Homo sapiens: one gene and its partner. The protein of the gene in region 1 purifies or fractionates together with the protein of each later gene. This does not show direct contact. Each region holds a gene or a part of one and is shown on either strand. Other genes may lie near its edges. The genes, in order: ALG10B and NPLOC4.

Region 1 (12,103 bases):
TAATAAAGGAAGTTAAAAAAATAAAGTGTTGGAAATACTGCTAGTGTTAATGTTGACAAGACTCTCTGGATACTTGAGGCAGCCTTGGAGGAAGAAAAAACACAGATACAATTATTTTAATGATAAATGCTATTTCTGCTTACCTAATGAAGAGATTTATTTAAAACTACTCAACTACTCAAACCTTATTTAAATAAAATTAATCAATATTAATCTTATCTCTGGCTTTGCAAAAACACAATAAACATTTATAAGAACACTTCCTGGTACTTTTTATTTATACCTATCAGTTTGGAGACCGTGTGTATGCCAAAGCTTCTATAGCTTAACACAATTTGAATCAGGCTATGATTAGTTAAGGAGTTACTGAGTGCAAGATACCGACTAAGTTCTGTGGGGACTATGGAGATAAATAGGACACAATGCTGGCTCCATTTCCCTGAGCTTATGTTTTAGTGCCTTCAATAAGGATTCACTTAGCCATAATCACCACTTTCCTTTAAGGAAATCCTTCATAACACTACACAAGGGAGAATGTAAACATGCATATGGTATTTATTTTACCATATCCAGACTTACTTTTTCAAGATGATATTTTCATGATGAAATAACGGTATTTTTCTGAAAAGTGAGCCAGTCTAAACTTATATATCTTATTTTGGCCTTTCTGACATGCTATTTCAGAATTTGAAAGTGTTCTTATGTTCTTGAATTGTATACTCCACTTAATCTAAATCACTAAATCAGACCATGTCATTTCCTTGATTAAAATTAAGGTCTCTCCATTACATGCTAAAGTTCAAAGTCCTCTCTGTGACATATGAGGGCATTCATGACCTACTTCTCTAGCCTTACATCCCTCTACTTTCTAATCCTGTAATTCCAAGACCAATTCCCTGCACCTCATTGTTCAATGCCTTTCTTCCTTTGCTTATGCTGTTTGTCTCCCCAGGATTAATTCCTCACCCTACACAGCCCTATCCGTTCATCAGGACTCAGCTCTGGTACCATCTTCTCTGTGAGGACTTACTGAATGCCACATACTCCTCTCCCTCCCAGAAAAGCAGTAAGTGTTTCCCTGCTCCTTCTCTGTGTCCTCATAGCATCTTATGTCTACTACTCTATCATAATTGACACTACTGAAATAATCTCTTAAGGTTAAAAATAATTATTAGAGTTAATATTTACTGAGCCCTTACTATATATCTGGCACTATTTGAAGCATCTTCCATTTATTAAGTTTCCTTGTTCCTTTATAACAGTTCTATAAGGCAGATTCTATTGTTATTCTTATTTAACAGATGAAGACATGGAGCCACTAAGGGTTAACCTGCCCACAGTAACAAAACTGGTTAAGTGGCAGGGAGAGAATTCTAACCCAGGCAATCGACCTCCGGGGCCTGCACTATTACCACATCAAAAGTCCTCAGGTAAAGTCTGTTTTCCCTACTGAATATATACGTTTTACAAGAAAAAGACTGCCTCATTTATCTCTGTAGTCCCAGTCCCCAGCACATGGAATAAGCTCAGTAAGTATTTATTGAACTGGTTTGACTCACTTAACAAATATTTACTTTAGAGTTTACAAATAAGTTATTCAAGTATTTAAATACAAATTTATTCTAAAATGGAGATGGAGAATTTAAATTTACCTTTACATAATATACAAAAAATACAAAGTTACAAAGTGTTAAAGACATTTTTCACCAAATCTCATAAAACTAATTCATTGTAATTGTGGACCTGACTACACATAAACTTGTAATTAAGTATTTTGAAACATACCTTGTTTCTGGGTTGTACCTTGTGGAAAAGCAAATATAGTAAATAGAAGTTGCCAACACTGAAGAGAAGATTAACAAATCTGAGCATCCCAATGGAGCAGACAACATGTTCAGACCATGCAAAGATCCAAATGGCAGGTTTGACCACTCCAACTGACACCAGGTACAAGCCAGGTAATGTAGTAATCATGGGATCCCACTTTAAAATGAAAGAAAATGAAGTAAAAGCAAGAGGTAATACGAACAAGACAGACACAAATATGTCAAGCCCAAGTCTCATCTCCAGCAACAATCAGAAATTTTGAGAAGTTAGTCTATGACAAGATTAAGTAAGTCCTTGGCAGAACAGGATTAGTTTTTCTTATTTTTTGCCCCCGGACCAGCTTAGTGATGGTTCAGGTAGCAGCAACCAATAAACAACAACTTAAAATCTATTTCTATTTTCCAAGAAATGTTCTTTAAAAGCCTTTATTTTGATAAATAAACTGCAAATGCTCCAGTTTTTAAAAGCATGGAAACATTGTTTGGGACTCTAAGTTTAGGAAAACATTTGGACCACAGGCTCCATGATGACAGCTGACATAAACTGAGACAGAAATTGTGCCAAACCCTCTGTATTGTAACATTACAATATGCCCTATAGTAAAGATTATTGTCATTTTGCAGATGAGTAACCTGAATTTCTGAAACTCAGAACATCTCCAAGATCACAAAACTAGTAAATCACAGCACCAAGATTTAAGATCAGATCTTTCTCTAAAACAGACTTTATATTTCTAGCCAGTACCCTATATTGTGTCACCAGAAAAGCAGGGGATGTTTATTTTGATATTTATATGTACATACTTGCACAGTCAAATATATATTCAAAAATGATGTGACTTGACTGGTTGCCAGTTTATCCAGTCAACAGATAGTTCACTAAAAATACCCAGGGAAGGAATTTGTGATTATAAATTGTCACTTTTTGGTAGCCGAAGATCCCTCCAGTCCACCCTATCCCACCCCTAAAATGCACAGTGAGGTGCTTAACAGGTGAGCTAAAGGGAAGTTTTCTGATATTTCCAAGGAGCACCCGAATGCCTTTAATCCTGAGACAAGGAAAAACAAAGTGGGATCGATATTGTCAGCTGCCAAGAGGAGCGCTCAGTTCCCCACTAAGTATTCTCCCAGATCACTCCTCCCTGGGGATCAGATCTGCTGTTTATTCATTCATTTAATAAATATTTCACAGATCTCAGAGACAGGAACAAAAGACTATACCCAGTTTCTTTCATGTTCTGAGGCTGGGGTGGGGTGGAAAGGGACGAGTTAAGTCTAAAGATGGGAGAAGGAGCTGGGGACGCTGGGACCTTTCAGGCCTCTCCTGGGGTGGGGACAGGTTGGGCACCCCACCTGGGAAAGGGAGAAATGGCCCTCACAGTAGCGCTGCGCCTGAGGCAGGTGGAAGATCTCGTCCATGTAGGGCTCTCGCAGCGCCCGGCTGAAGGCGGAGAAGAGGAGGCAGGACACTAAAAAGGTACAGCTCAAGGCGGCCGAGAAACAGTAACCCTCTAGCTGCGCCATTCCTGCTCCCACAGCCACTGCCCAAGAACCCACTCCTGGAAAATTCTGAGCCCGGAAACCCGAGCTGGAAACTTGGGCTCGAAATGGGCGCGCTAGACAGGACTAGCCAGACGGGGCCACATACCGGAAGGCAAAGGATGCTGGGAGAGCGCGGATCCGGAAAACAGCGGGTCGCTGTTTCCTGGAGTGACGGGTTTAGATAACGGACCGGATGATTACCCTCTCCATCACATTACTCGGGGCGCACAGTGTCAAAACTTCCGGAAAGGGCGGGTCTCGGATTTCGCGAGCGCGGGAGGGGCGTGGCTTGCTGCTTTGGAAAAAAAAAAAAGCCGCTTCTTAGCTTGGATCTTTTTTCCTGCTCATTTCCATCACTTACCAGAAGGTGGCGACGTTTCCCCACGTTTCCAATTCCAAGCCCTAAAATTAACACATTTTTTTCCCCCGTTATTTCTTTTCTTTCTCTCCAGTGATCCGAATTAATTAAACCCTCAATTCCAAGACATTTCATTCCATCAACCTTGGAGTGTAGGAAGGGGGCGTTGGTTGTGATAGCAAAGACTGAGACTTTCAGATGAAAACTTGAAGAACCAGAGACCCGTCAATGCCGAATGAACTTCAGTGAGAGGAGTGTTTGTTCGTTTGTTTGTTTGTTTAGGTTAAGAGAGAACTCTTTCAAAATGTGGATGCTCTCAGAGGATTTAGTAAAATTGACACTCCTAGTGCACTCTCATAGCCATATTACCCTGTAGGATTTGGAAGAAAATATATATTTTAGAATTTGGGATGTTTTAGGTGTGCCTGTAAATTAGGTTGTTAATATTTATAAGGCAGCCTTCTGTTTTTCCTACTAAATCATAAGCGTGAACATCTTAGTGGGTGGCATTATACATCCTTTATGTTTGTAGTCCCCCAAATGGCTTTCACACAGTAGGCACTTAAATTTGTGGACTTTTATAGGCTGTGTAGACATCATCAAATTCCTGTATTCTGGGATTAGGTGTTGGGGGCAGGAGATGTGGTAAATAATTTGAAGAATGCCGAAGATAAATTATGTGTTGGAATTTTGTCTTGAGCATGGTTGGCCATGTTTTGTAGAAAAACTTTCTCTCAGGTAACCTCAGTCAGGTTGCCTTTGGCAGGCATATATCAGATTGAGTCGGGATTTAAGGTTGCAAACCTCAGAGTTCTCAATTGAGCTCTTTTTCTGGGTTAAAAATAATTCAGTATTTCTGAACTTAAGAAAGTTTCTTAAATCAAGCTGACTGCCTTTCCAGTCTGTCTCTGCCTGTTTCCTCAATGATAAGAGGAGGTAGTGGTGAATGAGGGCTGGGACGGGAATATTTACATTACTGGAATAAAATCATGTCAGGATTCTACTCTGATGTGATGCTTAGCTTTGCTTTAACCATCATCTCCCATTTTATTATTGATTCCATGCTGTACTTATCTGTTTAAGTCACTTGTAACACATCTCCAGATGATTCAGTCTTCAAGAGGTTGATGTGATCTACGAGTAATTAGCCCCTGACCTATTGACCTGCTAAATCGTGTTATATATACTCTGCAGCTTACTGACCCACCCTAGAAATAGTGGGCCGTTTTTAAAGGGAGTAGAACAAGACTAGACATTTATGCTCTCCATTTTTCTTCATAACAATTGCCACCAATAGTTTATGTTAAACATTTGACTCCTATACATGCTGCACACATCGCTTTACATAAAATGGAAAGTTTCAAGGAAATATAGGGTTTTAGGATGGCTAGGGATCTTTATTAATAATCTACTTGACTTCATTTTATAAAAGAAGCTGATTTTTAAAAAATGAATAATTTACCTAAAATTACATAAAAAATTAGTGTCAGAACCAAGTGTAGGAATTAGAACATCAGACCAAGAGTAATAAAATAACTTCACAGCCTTATAGGTTAAAATAATCTACAATATATACTGAATTGAATGTTTCACTAGTCCCAATAACTTTACATTTACATTCCACTATTCTCTGTTTCCATACACCAATTTGAAATACAAGTTTCATCTTTTAAAAAAATGTTCGTCTTACAGACTAATTACATCAAAATCTGCTGGGGGATCATTGTGAAAAACTAGATTCTAGAGAGCCATCTCAAATCACTGAATACTGATCTTCATATTTGGAAACGATTGATGTAAAACATATTACCTAAGAATGCTAAGAAGCTCCATGGGCCCAGTAGAGTTCTTCATAGAGTACTTCACTCATTTGTTAGTGAGTTACTTTTACTATCTGCAAATCGATGAAGCTGTTGTCACTTTTCTACTCTTAGATTACAGCATCTTTGATAATCTTGAAATGCTTTCCAAAGCTCTGCTCCTAAATCAAGACCTAGTAAAATAGCTACCTCTGGGGTTTTAATGAAATAGACTACATTTTATTAGACCTATCATTTAAAACTAGATCAGCATTGATTTCAACTTATATTTTCCATTCAGAATTCCAACTGCCATTTTCCATAGATGTTTGTGAAAAAGAGTCATTAGGATGAGCAATCCCATTATAATTGCACATCAACTATTTATTTGTGCTACTTGAATTATGATAAATAAGTTACGGCAGAAAAATGGGCAATTTCTGTTGGGGTTCTAAGGATAGGTTGTTTTAGCAAGAAATACATCTTTTTTGGTTTATAAGCCATTAAGATTTTGACTTTATTTCTCTGGTATAACCTAGCTGACTTTGATCAATTAAGACATTCCTAATTTGATGAACTCAGACAACATAGCATATACTTAACTGTTTGAAACAGCCATATCTGAACAGTGAATTTCCCCAAAGGCTGTAACTGTAATAACTTTGAAGTATTAGTCCAAGAAACACCCTGCCTCTTATTGCACCCCTTTTCACTTGTTGCTGAATGAAAACATTGGCCACTTGCTAATCAGAGTGACGGTTTACTCCTTTCTAGGTGACAATTCGTTCTAGCTACAGCAGAGTACTGCACCCTGGGCCAAAAATCACAGATGATAACCTCTAAAATGCAACTCTACCCTTGAGGTCAATCTTAACATATCAATTTAAAATCTAAATTTTAAAATTAATGAATCAATTAAAAAAACACACAACATTTTAGTACAAAAGCATTAGCAAGTATTTTAGCTCTACTGAAAATGTCTTGAAGACATTGTATAGGGGACTGGTTAAACCTAAGTAACACACACACGGAGAGACCCTTCTAAAAAACAGTAATATTTATTTGGTGAGAATACAATGAACATAGGGAGGTAAAAGAAGACAAGGGATTTTAAAAGAAAAATGAAGAGGGTTACATAAATTGCTTTGAGACAATTATCCTTGGTTACAAGGACTGGTAGAAAGGGTGGCACCAGTTTGAGGTTGGACAGGCAGTTGCTGGGCAAATGTCCTCACAGAAGTAATTTTTTGTGAGATTGTGGTGGCCTTTGTGCAAAGTTGTGGTTTGTGCAGTCTTTTGTCGTAGTTCCTGTTGTCAGGCATACACGCATATAAACCCTCCCTTTCTGGTCTTCCTTAGCTCCATTTTTCAGGGTTTTTATGCAAGTGGCCCCATTTTGATTCTGATAACTTTCATAGAACAAATCTTTCTGGTTTGTGGCAGACTTTCCAGTTTTACCCTTGAAAGTCTCAGGCCAGGTAAATTCTGTAGTATCAGACAAAGAGAATGGTTGGTGATATGGTTTGGCTGTGTCCCCACCCAAAATCTCACCTTGAATTATGATCCCCATAATCTCCACGATCCCCACGTGTCAACGGAGAGACCAGACGGAGATAATTGAATCCTTGGGGCAGTTTCCCCTATGATGTTCTCATGATACTGAGTGAGTTCTCATCTGATGGTATTATAAGTGTTTGATAGTTCCTCCTGCATTCATTCTCTTTCCTACCATCTTGTAAAGAAGGTGACTTGCTTCCCCTTCGCCTTCCACCATGATTGTAAGTTTCCTAGGCCTCTGCAACCATGCTGAACTGTGAGTCAGTTAAACCTCTTTCCCTTATAAATTACCCAGTCTTCTGCAGTTCTTTATAGCAGTGTGAAAAAGGCCTAATACACTTGGTCATTTAGAAAGATATACCATACAACCCAAAGCAAAACTTCCTAAATGTTTTTTTTTTATAACAGTGGTTCTTAAAGTGTGGTCCCTGTACCACAGCATTAGTATCACCTGGGAACCTGTTAGAAGTGCAAATAATTAAGTCTTGCCTTAGACCTACCGGAAAACAAATTCTGATAGCAGAGGGAGCCAAGTAATACATGTTTTAACGTTCATTTTGTAATCACTTATGATTCCCTTAGATTCCCAAGTGGACCTGATGGACATGAAAGTTTGAGAATACTGCTGTCCTCTACATTCCCCTTGCTTTTCTGATCACTCATGCTGCTTTGTCCCCTGGTTTCTCCAATTCTTCATCTCCAGGCTTCACCCTGCCAAGGAACAAAGTTCATTGCCAATGAACATATAGACGATGTTCCTCCTCAGCAGCTGAAGAAGAGGAACTTAAATACTTACAATTTAATGGCTTTTAGTTACATATATTTATATTCAGACAGATGGCTTTTCTTTCAAAAAACTATGCGAAGGGGAACTGTGCTTTTTGCTAAAATAAGTAGCTTAAAAACCATAGTCCTACAGCTATTGCTGCCAGTTAGATAAGAAACATTCCAGGAAAAGAAACTTCATGAATTCCTTTTCCTTTAAACTGCATAAAATTTAAGAGAATCATAAATTGATTATTAAATGAATTGCACTATTATACTGATGAAATTACAGTACTATTAAATCAACCAAAGTAAAAAGTTAGAAGAGAAGACATTGAATTAATTTTAATTCTTAAATAATTTTACAGTTTAAGAGACACAGTAATATGATCTTACTAATTTTAAAATTTCAGACGTTAGAGTGAGATTTATGATACAATTGTTATTACTGAAAATAGAGGTTTTGTGAAATATTGAGGAGGGTTTCTGGTTAATTCCCTTTTGGCTTTAGAAGCAGAGTAAAACAAGTGGGCATCCTTAGGCTGAGCATTAGGTACCCTGCACTGGCTAAAAGTTTGGCGTACATTCAGAATATTGCTCTTTAAACATGTGCATGTTCTAATTTAGTGAGAATGGAGATCACCTGACTTTTCATTAATTAAATTTAAATACAGAAACCCTCATAGAGATTTTATTTTCACCAGACAAAGCAGAAACATTGAATCAGTAGTTTCTGATCTCCTGTGGTTCCTGTTCTTTCTAGATTTCCTTTTGTTCTTGCTTCATTTTGGGTTGGTTTTCTGAATGAGGCAACAAACTGTATTAAATAATTTACATTTATTTACTATAATAAAATGAAACACTACACTGTTTTTTACTGCCTCCAAATGTTAGTTTCCATAACTGCCAAATTTCAATGACTGCAAAAATGTGTGAGAAAGGTCTCTGCATTTAAAAACGTGCTTTTTAAAAACATGTATTTCCACTAGAGGATGCTGACAACTTCAACAGAATCAGGACCAATTTGTTACTTTTGCCACCAGTTAGGTTATAGTTTGTTTACTGATTCCAGTTATGTTTTAGTTTATGTTTACTGATTGTAGTATTGTTTACTGGTCAGCACTCAAATATCCACCCAATGTGACTGCCACTCAGGATGGCTATGTTTGTAATTTTTTAAAGTTCATTATTTACAATATTAATAATTCATTACTATTATTTTTGGTAGTGAAAATATCTTACAATAGTGATGTCATCATCCAAAAAAATAATGGAAGCAGGTGAGAAACCAGACTCTGATGGAGATACAGGCACACATGGCATGATTGGCTGCCTCTGGGGAATGAACAACACACCGCACACTTATCTGGGCCCTTCAATCATGTGAAGAAAAAGCCTTAGTTCTCTGAGGAAGGTGAGATACTTCCACCCCAGGAAGCAGCCAAAGATCCTGGAGGAGGGAGAGAAGTAAAAATCTTTTGCCCTCAATGGAGTGGCAGGAAGGTCTTCAGGCCTCCATCCTTCAGTAATTCAAAGCAGAGGTATGGTGCTCCTACTGGAGAGGCCTTGAACACTCCCTGGCTCTAAAACACCATGCATGCAAGGCACAGTTTGGCTACTATAGTGAGGAGGAACAGGAACAACTTGAAAGCCCTCCATTCCCCCACTCAGGTAGGGTCTCAAGCAGGATGTGTCTACCACTGAAGATGGGCTAGGAGCACTGAACCTACCTCCTCACCTCCCGCTATGAACCTGGCTGGCCCTGAGTGACAAGAAGTCAACTGTTGAGGAATGGGACAAAGCATGGGGAGAAAAATCCCTCTGAGGTGCAGGCTTGCAAAGAGTGCTGAAAGTTGAGGATGGAGCAGGAATACTGAGAGGAAGACTTTTGACATTCAGGGCTCAGCACTTAGCACAAGATAAAAACAGATCTCCACTAGAATTTGAAGAGTGTGTGTGTGTGTGTGTGTGTGTGTGTGTGTGTGTGTCTTGATTATATTACCTAAGCACATATTTTGTAGAGTATATACCTAGGATTGTAATGAGAGTCTCATAAATTGGTGCATTTTCTAGGTTAAATATTAACAATGGGTCTTCCAAAGTGGTTGTACCAATTTATACTTCAAGCAGTATATGAGCGTTTTTCTTCTTTCATATCTTTATCAACACCTAGTATTGTTAGTTTTTTGTTACCCATTCTGGTGCATATGTTATGGCATCTCATTGTAGTTTTAATTTGTGTTTACCTAATGACGAATGAAAATAAGCTTTTTTCATATGTTTATTGGTCATTTGAATATTCTCATTTATAAAAGTTTAATTCAAGTCAATTGTCCAGTTTTTCGTGAAGAAGTCCGTCACAACCAATCCTCATGACATGTGATTACCTATGTAAAAAACCTTCACATGTACTCCCAAACCTAAAATAAAAATTAAAATAATAATAAATAAAAATAAGAAAAAGTCAAGAAATGGCAACATAGGCTTGTTATTTCAATTTACCAAGGTAACTGTCAAACTATTGAAAACAGTTAAATCTTGGAAAAACAAATCAAAGTTTGGCAAAGATAGTGACCCTTATTTAGAACAATTATAAGCTTATTGCACTTATTTTACCTTTGGAAGAAACACAGATGTTCATTTAAAAGTGTGTTTTGTGGACTGGTGCCTGTTCAGATCCCTGTATTACTATTTTTGAACATGTAAGTACAGAAATTAAGAATAAGCTTTTAGAAATTTTTATAGCAGTATGGCAGAGTAATTTTATTTTTGTAGAATTAATACTAAAAGTGAGCTTATATTTTATATGTCTGTTTTTTCTTTCACTTTTCTAACAATTCATTTTTGTTATATTTCATAGAATTATTAATCCATGATAGGTTGGAAATTTAGAATAAAACTAGTTATTTACCCTGTGTAGTTTGAGAAATGTTCTATTACCTTGCAACAAATGAAAATTTAACTTAAAAAGTAAAATAAAATAAACAACTTTGTATTATGTCCAGAAGATGTGTAAGGTGATATTTTTGACCTGGTAACTTAAAAATTTAATATAATAAATATTTAACATAGTGTTTTTGTTTGGCCAACATCATTTAGTAGAATGCTCAACACTCAACCTAAACTTAGCCCTTTCTTTTATTTTTGAGAATTCAGTGCTGAATGTCAAGAAGGTTATTTATCAAGCAAGCATAAACTAATTTGGCTTTTTGTTATGTTCCAGAACTTTAATTTTTTTCATGATTATAGGTATTCTTCATTGGTAGAGCACTCTACTTTTCCACCTCTGCAAACATGTTATCAGATAGCTCATTGCAGTGAAAGCAAATCTTAGCCAAATTCCTCAGAAAAATGGACACGTATTAATTATAATGAGGCAGAAGCAGCCAATAAATCAGTTTGTAGGTTGGAGTTCCTTCTCTCTGCTCTCTGGTATCCTGGCCAACACTTTTATGTGTGTTTCATTTCTAAGCAGATGTGATGATAGTCTTATACTACAAATGGCAAACCTTGTAATCAGCTCTTGAACTGAGACTTTTTTATTTCTCTGTCTCTCTCTTTTTTTCTTTTTTTTTTTTTGAAGTTGAGAGAAATTAAATCAATACTTTTGGCTTTCTACTGCCATGAATCCTGTTATACCATTCCCAACTATTTCCTTAACTTAAACAGCAGTAATACCGGCAATCAAAAACTTGTTTAATAAAACGTCCTATATTATTTACTACAACTTAAAATGTCTATACAGATATTTTTTGAAAATTATTTTTATTGAGATATAATTTATGCACAGTAAAATTCACACATTTTCAGTGTATGGTTCTATGCCTAATCCCTCATGGGTATAAGTGAAAGTCTTGCAGATAGATTTTCTTTAAATCCTAACTAGCCAGATACAAATAGTTGAATCAAATTAATTAATGTGTTAAATGGCTGATCAAAATATTTTTATTCAAGTTACCTATTCATAAACCTCTTATTTCTCAATGTAATATAAAATATAACAGCTTTACTGAAAATACTACATGCTTTCATTAATGAAAAATAAGTAATTATCACAAATGCATTTGGGTCAAATGCTTATGCACTTTGTAATCACCTTATGTTCAATGCCACCGACCTAGGCGAAAAGCTGCAAATATAAGAATTTCTGTGGAAGGCTATTCATTTTTTAACTTGATTATTCGTAACACCACTATTAATTATCTTTCACTATATAATTAAGAATATATAATTAATTATATTAATATATTTCAAAT
Region 2 (12,180 bases), on another chromosome or scaffold:
CGCGTGACTGCACTCCAGCCTGGGTGACAGAGCGAGACTCCATCTCAAAAACTAAATAAATAATAAAAAGCAGCCATGGCTGTGTGCTGGGCAAGGATCCCATTCCAATCCAGTTTCACCAGGAAGAAGCTGATCACAGCATCAGGCTCTCAGCTCACTGCAGCCTCAAACTCCTGGGCTCAAGCCATCCTTCCTCCTCAGCCTCCTGAGTAGCTGGGACTACAGGCACTGCAACCATGTCCTGGTAATTTTTTTTTTTTTTTTTTTTTTTTGAGACGGAGTCTCGCTCTGTCGCCCAGGCTGGAGTGCAGTGGCGGGATCTCGGCTCACTGCAAGCTCCGCCTCCCGGGTTCACGCCATTCTCCTGCCTCAGCCTCCCAAGTAGCTGGGACTACAGGCGCCCGCCACTACGCCCGGCTAATTTTTTGTATTTTTAGTAGAGACAGGGTTTCACCGTTTTAGCCGGGATGGTCTCGATCTCCTAACCTCGTGATCCGCCCGCCTCGGCCTCCCAAAGTGCTGGGATTACAGGCGTGAGCCACCGCGCCCGGCCGTCCCGGTAATTTTTTAAAATTATTTTTTGTAGGCCGGGCACGGTGGCTCATGCCTGTAATCCCAGCACTTTGGGAGGCCGAGGCGGGTGGATCACGAGGTCAGGAGATCGAGACCATCCTAGCCAACATGGTAAAACCCTGTCTCGACTAAAAAAAATTAGCTGGGTGTGGTGGCATGTGCCTGTAATCCCAGCTACTCAGCAGGCTGAGGCATGTGAATTGCTTGAACCGAGGAGGCGGAGGTTGCAGTGAGCCGAGGTTGTGCCACTGCACTCCAGCCTGGTGACAGAGCGAGACTCTATCTAAATATATATATATATATATATATATATAATATTTTGTAGAGACAGGGTCTCGCTACATTGCCCAGGCTGGTCTTGAACTCCTGGGCTCACGCAATCTTCCCTCCTCAGCCTCCCAAAGTGCTGGGATTACAGGAGTGAGCCACTGTGCCCGGCCCCAGAGGAGGGTTATTTATCACCCCCAAGACCTCAACAAGTCACTAGAAGCAAAAGGACAGGCTGTCAGTGCCTGGTTGGCCAGACTGGGGCCACTGGGGGCCAGAGGCCGTTGGAGGCTGGCTGCAAGGGACATTTGCCTTCACCCCCTCCTGCACCCTGAGCCAAAGATTGCCCCCAAGGCCCTCAGGGAGATCTGGCAGATCCCTTGACCAGAGGCCAGCATGGGGCTGAGAGAACTGCGCAGTGGGGAAGGGGGAGGGGGCTGCCTAGAACCACCCCCCTCAACCCAATCTCAGCATTGAGGTGTGGGGTGGCACCAGGGGCAGGGGTGGGTGTGAACCCAGCCCAGGGACTTCCCTTAGGACTTCAGGGCTGGGGACATCTCCAACCTCAGGGCAAGGCCACTTGGCATGGCTCACCTGGGACAGTAAGGGGCTCCTCTCCCCCTCCTCCATCCTTGACGCTGGAACAGAAAGCCCCCAGCACAGGCGCCGGGAGAGGTTCGCTGGCTCCTCTGTGGCTGGGCTGCTGGGCTGGTCCTGACTGCGGCCCTGGGCTAGTCTGTGAACAGTGCAGCCCTGGGCATGGGAATGGGGGAGGTGCGAGCCCTACCCAGATGCCGGAGTCACAGTTGAGTCATGTGAAGAATCACATTTTAGAGCTTAAGGAGGCCTCTGCTTGTGGAGATATATTTCTCCCCAGCCCTGGCTCTGTGGGTCCCCTAAGCTCAGCGCAGGTGTGACTCAGGCAGGCATGTTTGGGTGCCAGCCTTGTGGCTCTCACTGCAGCCCCCCATGCGGACTTCAGCTCTGCAGGGTCAGCAGCCGCTCCATCAGCTCCCAACCAGGGAATCAGACCCTGGTAAATTGGTTCACAACCCCAATCCCAAGAGACCCATGGGCAGCCCCAGCGCCAATCTATCCCCCGGCTTGTTCACTGCACGAATGAAACAGCGTCCCCCCACCAGATCACCTCCTTGTTTTTGTTTTTGAGACTGAGTTTCGCTCTTGTTGCCCAGGCTGGAGTGCAATGGCGCAATCTCGGCTCACTGCAACCTCGCCTCCCGGGACTACAGATGTACGCCACCTTGCCTCACTCATTTTTGAATTTTTTTTGTAGAGACAGGGTTCTGCTGTGCTGCCCAGGCTGGTCTTGAACCCCTGGACTCAAGTGATTCTCCTGCCTTGGCCTTCCAAAGTGCTGGGATTACAGGCTGGAGCCACTGTGCCCGGACTCAGCCACCAACACTCAGCAGTCCAAAGAGGTGGTCTGGGTGGTGCAGCACAGCAGGCAATGTACTGATGGAGCAGGCAGAGGGTTTCAGGCGCGCGTGAGACGCCTGGGTGGGAGCACACCGGGCAAGTTTTAGGAGGAAAGGTCACCTGGCTGTGTGGGGCAAGCGGAGATGGGGGTGGGAGGGAGGTCCATGAGGTGACAGGGCTGGATCAGGTGAGGCCTTGAAGGCCACTCTGAGTCTTCAGATCTTCCTCGGAGAAGTGGGATATGCTGCAGGTGGGAAGTCGGGGCGAGGACCAGAGCTGCAGGCTGAGCTTCTGGGCTCCAGCTTCCCTTCACCTCCCCAAAGGTGACAAACCCAACCTCATGGGCCCTGCAGCAGCTCCACAGCCAGGGTCACGGTCACAGGGACTGTCCACGGCCTCCAACTCAGTCTGTTCTAAGGATGGGTAACCTTTTTTTTTTTGAGACAAGAGTCTCGCTCTGTTGCTGAGGCTGGAATGCAGTGGCACGATTTTGACTCACCGCAACCTCTGCCTCCTGGGTTCAAGCGATGCTCCTGCCTTGGCCTCCTGAGTAACTAGGATTGCAGGCGCCACACCTGACTGATTTTGTATTTTTAGTAGAGATGGGGTTTCACCATGTTGGCCAGTCTGGTCTCGACCTCCTGACCTCAAGTGATCTGCCCGCCTCCTCCTCCCAAAGTGCTGGGATTACAGGCGTGAGCCACCACGCCCGGCCAAAGTCTGGGTAATCTTTTAATGAAACGATCATCATCTACCACTGTTATGGCTGAATTGTGCCCCTTACATTCTTATGATAAAGTTCTAGCCCCCCGGACCTCAGAATGGGACTTGGAGACAGGGCCTTTAAAGGCCATTAGGGGCTGGGCGCGGTAGCTCACACCTGTAATTCCAGCACTTAGGGAGGCCGAGGCAGGTGGATCATGAGGTCAGGAGATTGAGACCAGCCTGGCCAACATGGTGTGACCCTGTCTCTACTAAAAGTACAAAAAATTAGCTGGGCATCGTGGCGCATGCCTGTAATCCCAGCTACATGGGAGGCTGAGGCAGGGGAATTGCTGGGACCCAGGAGGCAGAGGTTGCAGTGAGCCGAGATGGTGCCGCTGCACTCCAGCCTGGTGACAGAGCAAGACTCCATCCCTAAATAAATAAATAAGTGCCATTAGCGTGGGCCCTAATCCAACATCCTTACAAGAAAATTGGGACACACGGTGGGACACATGGAGAGACACGAGGAATGTGTGCACAGAAGAAAAAACATGTGAGGTCTCGGGGAGAAGGTGCCATCTTCGAGCTAAGGAGAGAGGTATAAGAAGAAACCTGGCTGGGTACAGCGGCTTATGCCTGTAATCTAAGCACTTTGGGAGGCTGAGGTGGGTGGATTGATTGAACCTAGTAGTAGTTAGAGACCAGCCTGGGCAACATAGCAAGATCCCATCTCTACTAAAAATACAAAAAGTTAGCCAGGTGTGATTGTGAGCACTTGTGGTCCCAGCTACTGAGGAGGCTGAGGTGGGAGTATCACCTGAGCCTGGGAAGTCGAGGCTACAGTGAGCCACGATTGTGCCACTGCACTCCAGCCTCGGCGATGGGAGTGAGACCCCAGTCTTTTCTTTTTTTTTTTTTTTTGAGACGGAGTCTTGCTCTGTCGCCCAGGCTGGAGCGCAGTGGCGTGATCTCGGCTCACTGCAAGCTCTGCCTCCCGGGTTCACGCCATTCTCCTGCCTCAGCCTCCCGAGTAGCTGGGACTACAGGCACCCGCCACCACGCCCGGCTAATTTTTTTTTTATTTTTAATAGAGACAGGGTTTCACCATATTAGCCAGGATGGTCTCGATCTCCTGACTTCGTGATCCACCTGCCTCGGCCTCTCAAAGTGCTGGGATGACAGGCGTGAGCCACCGCGCTGGGATGACAGGCATGAGCCACCGTGCTGGGATGACAGGCGTGAGCCACCGCGCTGGGATGACAGGCGTGAGCCACCGCGCCCGGCCAAGACCCCAGCCTTAAAAGAAAAAAAAAAGAAGAAAACAAAGGAGAAACCACGTCTACTGACACCTTGATCTGGGATTCTAGCTTCCAGGACTGTTAGGAAGTAATTCCAGGCCGGGCATGGTGGCTCATGCCTATAATCCCAGCACTTTGGGAGGCTGAGGCGGGTGGATCACGAGGTCAGGAGATCGAGACCAGCCTTACCAACATGGTGAAACCCTGTCTCTACTAAAGATATAAAAATTAGCCGGGCGTGGTAGCGCACGCTTGTAATCTCAGCTACTCAGGAGGCTGAGGCAGGAGAATCGCTTGAACCCACGAGGCGGAGGTTGCAGTGAGCTGGGATCGCGCCATTGCACTCCAACCTGGGCGACAGAGGGAGATCCGACTCAAAAAAAAAAAAAAAAAAAAAGAAAAGTAATTCCAAACCACCACCCAGTCTGTGAGAGATTTTGTTATGTTATATTTTCTTATAACTGAGATAATTATTACAGTTAAAGAGATCGGACTTAACTGAACCCATCTTGCTTCTAACCTCCAAGCTGTCCTTGTTCATTCCTGGGTGTAGGCTGAAATAACTTCGGGAGGCGCTTAGTTTATAGTTTAGCTTTGAAACAAAGATGGTAACAGCCCTTTGCAAAACAAACTCCCTTCCTACCTGGGGACAAGACTGCCTTTTCAGGACTAACAAATTAGCCATAAGATTAGAAATTATGGTTTAGGAGTCATGTAGCTGGAGGCTACAAGATTCTAAACCTCCCAAATTGCTTCTCAGGATAACATCACTATTAAAAAACAGATCAGCGCTTGAGATATTTTGCAGACTCTGCACTCCATGGATCAGCTGGCACCACCCAGATTGATAAACTGGCTCATATCTTGTGGCCCCCACCCAGGAACCGACTCAGCACAAGAGGACAGTTTTGACTCCCTATCATTTCACCTCTGACCCAACCAATCAACACTCCCTACTTTCTGACCCCATACCCACCAAATTATCCTTAAAACCGCGGATCCCCAGCCGGGCACGGTGGCTCACGTCTATAGTCCCAGCACTTTGGGGAGGCCCAGGTGGGCGGATCACCTGAGGTCAGGAGTTCAAGACCAGCCTGACCAACATGGAGAAACTCCGTCTCTACGAAAAATACAAAATTAGCCAGGCATGGTAGTGTGCGCCTGTAGTCCCAGCTACCCGGGAGGCTGAGGCAGGAGAATCACTGGAACCCAGGAGGTGAAGGTTGCAGTGAGCCGAGATCGCGCCACTGCACTCCAGTGTGGGTGACAGAGTGAGATTCGGACTCAAAAACAAAAAAAAACAAAAAACAAAAAACTCTGATCCCTGAATTCTCAAGGACACTAATTTTTTTTGAGTAGTAATAAAACCTCAGTAACCTGTACAAGCTGGCTCTGTGTGAATTAAACTCTTTATTGCAATTCCCCTGTCTTGATAAAGTCTAGGCAGTGGGCAGGGACAATATGTTGGGTAGTTACAGTGGCACCCTGAGCAAACTAATACAATTACTAACATAATTTAATCAATTAATGTAATTTAACATAGTTTAAAAAAACTGTCACAGTAATTGTGATGTTGTGAAATATGTATACATTTAGTCTTCCGGTTTCCTGGTATCCAACTCCAAAAATCCTTAGAATCTGTGAAGTGACGTCTTTTTTTTTTTTTTTTGAGATGAAGTCTCACTCTGTCGCCCAGACTGGAGTGCAGTGGCACCAACTCAGTTCATTCTAACCTCCGCCTCTTCGCTTCAAGAGATTCTCCGGCCTCAGACTCCCGAGTAGCTGGGATTACAGGTGCCCGCCACCACGCCCAGTTAATTTTTGTATTTTTAGTAGAGACGGGGTTTCACCACGTTGGTCAGGCTGGTCTTGAACTCCTGACCTCAGGTGATCCACCTGCCTCGGCCTCCCAAAGTGCTGGGATTACAGGCGTGAGCCACCGCGTATGGCCTAATTTTGTATTTTGAGTAGAGACGGGGTTTCACCATTTTGGCCAGGCTGGTCTCGAACTTTTGACCTCAGGTGATCCGTCCACCTTGGCTTCCCAAAATGCTGGGATTACAGGTATGAGCCACCGCGCCCGGCCTGAAATGCAGTTTAAACTCGTTTGTTTTTCTTATGTTAAATTTAAAAAATACTTAAAAAAAAAAACATGAAGGTGTGATCCTGCCTTCCTGAAATTGTTTCTCTACTTACCTGTGCATGGAGAGAAGTTTGGAATGCTGTTTCCCCAATTATAATACGCTATAATACGCAGCAGTAGTTATTTTTGGGTGAGACTTCGGATGCTCGTCTTTGCTTCCTTTTTGGACTTTCCTGTGCCGCTTGGGTTTCCGAGGACGAGCAGAAGTAATCTCAGACGCAACTTTCCAAAATCCCCTCCTCCAGTTGCAGGGATGGCGGGGGCGGGTCAGCGGCGCCGCCCTGCGCATGCGTCGAGCCGTTGGTGGGGCCGGAACCTGGTTTCCCGGCCTCGCGCCCGAGGGGAGCGTATTGAGCGAGGCACCGGGACGTCGGCGGCTGGCGGAGCCGGGCGGGCGAAGCTGGAGCGGCGGTGGCGGCGGCGTAGGGAGGCCGGGGCCGGGGCTGAGGCCGCGGCCGGGTCTGCGAGGCCCTTGGGGCGGCAGGCGGCGGCGGCCCGGGGCTCGAGCCCGGAGGCAGGAGCAGCCGCCATGGCCGAGAGCATCGTGAGTGCGGCGGCCGGGCGGGAGCGGGGACGCCGGGATGAGGCAGCAGATTTGCCGGCCTCGGCCTGTGGGGGAGGCGGGCCTGCCGGCGCCGCGACTCGGCCCCTTTCTCTTCTCTCGCCAGGGCTTTCTCTGTAGTGGCTGGGCCCCTCTCGGGGACTTTCACCCCCCTCGGCTGCTTCCCGTCCGTGTCCCTCCCCAGGGGACTTACGACCCCGGTTCCCCGCCCTGGGCAGGGAAAGGCCGAGCCTTTCTAAGCAGGGAGAATGGACTGTGGCGAAGAGAAACCGCCCTCCTTCCCCACCCGTTTCCCGGCTCCAGGAGACTTCCTGGTCTAATTCCAGGGACTCCCAGCCAGTCCTGCCCCTCTCAGAGCCAGGGACACCTCTTATCCTAATCTCCCTCTGATTCTCTCCTCCTGCTCTCCCGCTTCCCAGCAAGTGCCTTGTCATGAGTCACTAAGGAGAGCAGCTCTGCAGACGGGGACGTTACAGAGCTCCCTCCCCACCAGAAGACCTGGGAAAATGAAAACACAGTAACTTGCCGGCTTTGCTCCTTACTTGGAAGGACAACTTGACAATTCCTCTTTAAAAGGAATGTTGTAAATGATGTTGATTTCACTTTTTACCTGAAATTGAAATTGTCGGCCCGGCGCAGTGGCTCACGCCTGTGATGTCAGCACTTTGGGAGGCCGAGGCGGGTGGATCACCTGGGGTCAGGAGTTCGAGACCATCCTGGCCAACATGGCAAAATCTTGTCTCTACTAAAAATACAAAAAATTAGCCGGGCGTCATGGCGCACTGTAATCCCAGATACTTGGGAGGCTGAGGCAGGAGAATTGCTTGAACGCGGGAGGTGGAGGTTACAGTGAGCTGAGATCCCTCCATGGCACTCCAGCCTGGGCTATAGAGCGAGACTGCGTCTCAAAAAAAAAAAAAAAATTGTCACACACTCCTCCTTAACGTAAAAAATATCAGTGACAAATCAGAAAACCAGTCCCTCGTTAAGTTGTGAGAAGTTTCTTCCCAAAAGTAAATGTGATGGGAAAAAAACTAACTGACCATTGGACAGGAGCATTTTGGTTAATATTAAGGAAGATTTGGGATTTCTGGGGGAAGCTTAGCAGTATTGGGTGAAGAGTAATGTTCATACTGTAGCATTGTGACAGTCTCTGCAGTTTTGCCAGGTGTTGTCTAGAATAGGTCTCCAGGCCCGGCGCGGTGACTCACACCTGTAATCCCAGCACTTTGGGAAGCCCAGGTGGGTGGATCACCTGAGGTCAGGAGTTCAAGACCAGCCTGGACAACATAGTGAGCCTAGGTGGCGTCACTGGACTCCACCCTGGGCGACAGAATGAGACTGTCTCACACACACAAACAAATGGGTCTCCAGGAGAACCTAGCACTTATTTGCAAGGCTGTTCTCTGGTGGTTCCATCATCTCTCCAGTCAGGGGCCCTCTTGGTGCCTCCATGTTTCCCAACCTGGAGATGAGTGGAATGAATATATGGCCCAGGAGAAACTTAGGAAACGTCGACTCCTTTTTTTTTTTTTTTTTTAACCTTATTTTATTTTTTTGAGATGGAGTCTCACTCTGTCGCCCAGGCTGGAGTTCAGTGGTGCGATCTCTGCTTACTGCAACCTCCGCCTCTCGGGTTCAAGAAATTCTCCTGCCTCAGCCGAGTAGCTGGGGTTGCAGGTGCTCGCCAACACGCATGGCTGATGTCTTTTTTATTTTTAGTGGTGATGGGGTTTCACCGTGTTGGCCAGGTTGATCTCGAACTTCTGACCTCGTGATCCGCCCGCCTTGGCATACCAAAATGCTGGGATTACAGGCATAAGCCACCGCGCCTGGCCTTTAAATCTTTTTAATTAAAAACATTTTTTTATAGAGATGAGGTCTCTACTATGTTGTACAGGCTGGTCTCTGAGCTCGAGGGATCCTCCTACCTTGGGGTCCCAAAATTGCTAGGATTACAGTCCTGAGCTACCATGCCCGGCCAAGAAACCTTTGACTCCTTTGAAAAATAAAATGTGGCCATGCAGTGGCTCACGCCTGTAATCCCAGCACTTTGGGAGGCCGAGGTGGGCGGATCACGAGGTCAGGAGTTCAAGACTGGCCTGACCAACATGGTGAAACCCTGTCTCTACTAAAAATAAAAAATTAGCCGGGTGTGGTGGCATGCACCTGTTATCCCAGCTACTCTGGAGGTTGAGGGAGGGGAATCGCTCAAACCCGGGAGGTGGAGGTTGCAGTGAGCCCAGATTGCGCCACTGCACTCCAGCCTGGGCGACAGAGCAAGACTGTCTCAAAAAAAAAAAAAAAAGTGTTAATCATTGGTGACTTTGCCTAGAAATAGGTTAGGAATTAGCACTGAAACCTTCTTTCAAACTACCTTTGTACTTTTAACTGAGTTAAAATAACCATTGACAAGTGAAAAGTGTTTCAGACAAGGCCATTTTTTTTTTCCCACTAGTGTATAAGGCTAGGCTCTCATTGACAGCATTGGATCTCGTTGAATGTCTCAGATTGTGAGGAATTAAAACACTCTTCTTTTGAAATTGATTTAAAAAGTTATTTTGAATTTAAGAAAGAGATCTTTTGAAAAGTTTCTGGGCTGGGCATGGTGGCTCACACCTGTAATCCCAGCACTTTGAGAGGCCGAGGCAGGTGAATAATGAGGTCAGGAGTTGAGACCAGCCTGGCCGACATGGTGAAACCACGTCTTTACTAAAAATACAAAAATTAGGGCGTGGTGGCTCACGTTTGTAATCCTAGCACTTTGGAAGGCCGAGGCAGGTGGATTGCCTGAGCTCAGGAGTTTGAGACCAGCCTGGGCAACACGGTGAAACCCCACGTCTACTAAAAAAAAAAAATACAAAAAATTAACCGGGCGTGGTGGCGTGCACCTGTAGTCCCAGCCACTCAGGAGGCTGAGGCAGAAAAGTTAGAACCCGGGAGGCGGAGATTGCAGTGAGCCGAGATCGCACCACTGCACTCCAGCCTGGGTGACAGAGTGAGACTCTTAAAAAAAAAAAAAAAATTAGCTGGGCGCGGTGGCGGGCGCCTATAATCCCAGCTACTTGGGAGGCTTGAGGCAAGAGAATTGCTTGAACTCGGCAGGCAAAGGTTGCAGTGAACCGAGGTCGCGCCATCGCACTCCCACTCTGGGTGACAGAGCAAGACTCTGTCTTGGGGGGAGAAAAGAGTTTCTGTGGATTTAACTGTATCTCACCAGTTCTTCAACTTCCCCAAGAAGCGTTCTAGTCTTATTTTCTTATAAATAGGGAAACTTAAGTTACCAAGAGGCTGTGTGTTCATGTTGTCAGGTCTGTCTCTTCCTGTGTATTTCATTTTGTAGTCTGTGTCAGAGGCTAGGCCAGAACTTTCCATCGTACAAATTATGTTTGTCTCTTGTTAAATACTGGAGTTGGCCTTGGAAACCTGGACTCCCATCTTCTGTGGTAGAGGATCAAGTAGGATGACTTCTTCACCTTAGAATTCTGCAGCCTGAACCATTTAGCTCTGTAAAGAATGGCGGTAACATGCTCTTGTTCCAGAGTCATCGTTTGAAGGAACATTCACATGTTCCCCTTCATTAGAACAGAGCTTTCCTTTTTAAGATAGCTAAGTGTTGGCAGACAGATTTTAGAAACAAATAAGTGGAAGTATTTACCTAATGCTATATATTGTGAAAACGTTTTTCTGGGGTATTGAATCTAGAATGAAGTATACTAGACGTTAGAAGTATAAAGAATTGTATTTCTTTTCTTTTTTTTTTTTTTTTTGAGACGGAGTCTTGCTCTGTCACCCAGGCTGGAGTGCAGTGGCGCGATCTGCTCACCACAAGCTCTGCCTCCTGGGTTCACGCCATTCTCCTACCTCAGCCTCCCAAGTAGCTGGGACTACAGGCGCCCTCCACCACGCCTGGCTAATGTTTTGTATTTTTAGTAGAGATGGGGTTTCACCGTGTTAGCCAGGATGGTCTCAATCTCCTGACTTAAAAGTTGAGAACATATTGGGTGGAGCCTTTTCTGCCAAGTGAAAGTTATGGGAAAATGCAGGACAGGGTTATCCTATTTTAGGAAAATCTAGATTAGGCTTAGTTACTTTACTAAAAGCGGACAAATCCCAGTAGACTGAGCCTTTATGGTGTTTTGTCCTGTATCAGTGGAAATCTTTTTTAGACAATGGCTTGTGACAGTTTTCATCTGCATAATGGTTGAAGAGGATGTTTAATGTAACACTCGTGGTAACCTCACAGAAAATAGTTATAGAATTTATGAAAAAGGAAATAAGGGAGGCCGGGTGTGGTGGTGCACACCTGTAATCCCAGCACTTTGGGAGGCCCAGGTGGGTGGATAACTTGAGGTCAGGAGTTCGAGACCAGCCTGGCCAACGTGGTGAAATCCCATCTCTACTAAAAATACTAAAAATTAGCCAGGCGTGGTGGCAGGCACTTGTAATCCCAGATACTCAGGAGGCTGAGACAGGAGAATCACTTGAACCGGGGAGGCAGAGGTTGCAGTGAGCCGAGATCACGCCATTGCACTCCAGCCTGGGCAACAAGAGCTGAAAAAAAAAAAAGAAATAAAAAAGGAAATAAGGGAATTGAAATGTTTCACTATAAAAAATCAGCTAGGCCAGGGTTGGTGGCTCATGCCTATAATCCCAGCACTTTAGGAGGCTGAGGCAGGTGGATCACCTGAGGTAGGCGTTTAAGACCAGATTGACTAACATGTTGAAACCCCGTCTCTACTAAAAATACAAAAATTAGCTGGGCTTGGTGGTGCACGCCTGTAATCCCAGCTGCTCAGGAGGCTGAGACAGGAGAATCGCCTGAACCTGGGAGGCGGAGGTTGCAGTGAGTGGAGGTTGCAGTGAGCCGAGATTGCGCCACTGCACTCCACCCTGGGCAACGGAAAAAGACTGTCTCAAAAAAAAGAAAATTAGCTGGGTATGGTGGTGGGCGCCTGTGATTCCAGCTACTCAGGAGGCTGAGGCAGGAGAATCACTTGAACTCAAGAGGCAGAGGTTGCAGTGAGCCAAGATTGCGCCATTGTACTCCAGCCTGGGCCACAAGATTGAAACTTCATCTCGGGGAAAAAAAAAATGAGCTAAATACAAGAGATGGTAATGCAGGAAATGAGAGAGAAAGAAGCTATAGAATGCACCATCAGTCTTTGCTGAGAGGAGAAGCTAGGACACTTATG

What was found.
Region 2: the proteins of ALG10B (region 1) and NPLOC4 purify together in Homo sapiens (affinity purification with mass spectrometry; 2 studies listed by BioGRID and IntAct, with this or other methods). This does not show direct contact.

The regions. Positions count from the first base shown.
Region 1 is NC_000012.12:38,308,141-38,320,243, reverse strand, and holds the start of ALG10B (dol-P-Glc:Glc(2)Man(9)GlcNAc(2)-PP-Dol alpha-1,2-glucosyltransferase), read right to left. Parts: upstream 3,471-12,103; 5' UTR 3,351-3,470; coding exon 3,180-3,350; intron 1,984-3,179; coding exon 1,786-1,983; intron 84-1,785; coding exon 1-83. UniProt on the Homo sapiens protein: Dol-P-Glc:Glc(2)Man(9)GlcNAc(2)-PP-Dol alpha-1,2-glucosyltransferase that operates in the biosynthetic pathway of dolichol-linked oligosaccharides, the glycan precursors employed in protein asparagine (N)-glycosylation.
Region 2 is NC_000017.11:81,631,703-81,643,882, reverse strand, and holds the start of NPLOC4 (nuclear protein localization protein 4 homolog), read left to right. Parts: upstream 1-6,770; 5' UTR 6,771-6,952; coding exon 6,953-6,967; intron 6,968-12,180. Other genes in the region: TSPAN10 (tetraspanin-10), read right to left, coding at 1,435-1,470. UniProt on the Homo sapiens protein: The ternary complex containing UFD1, VCP and NPLOC4 binds ubiquitinated proteins and is necessary for the export of misfolded proteins from the ER to the cytoplasm, where they are degraded by the proteasome.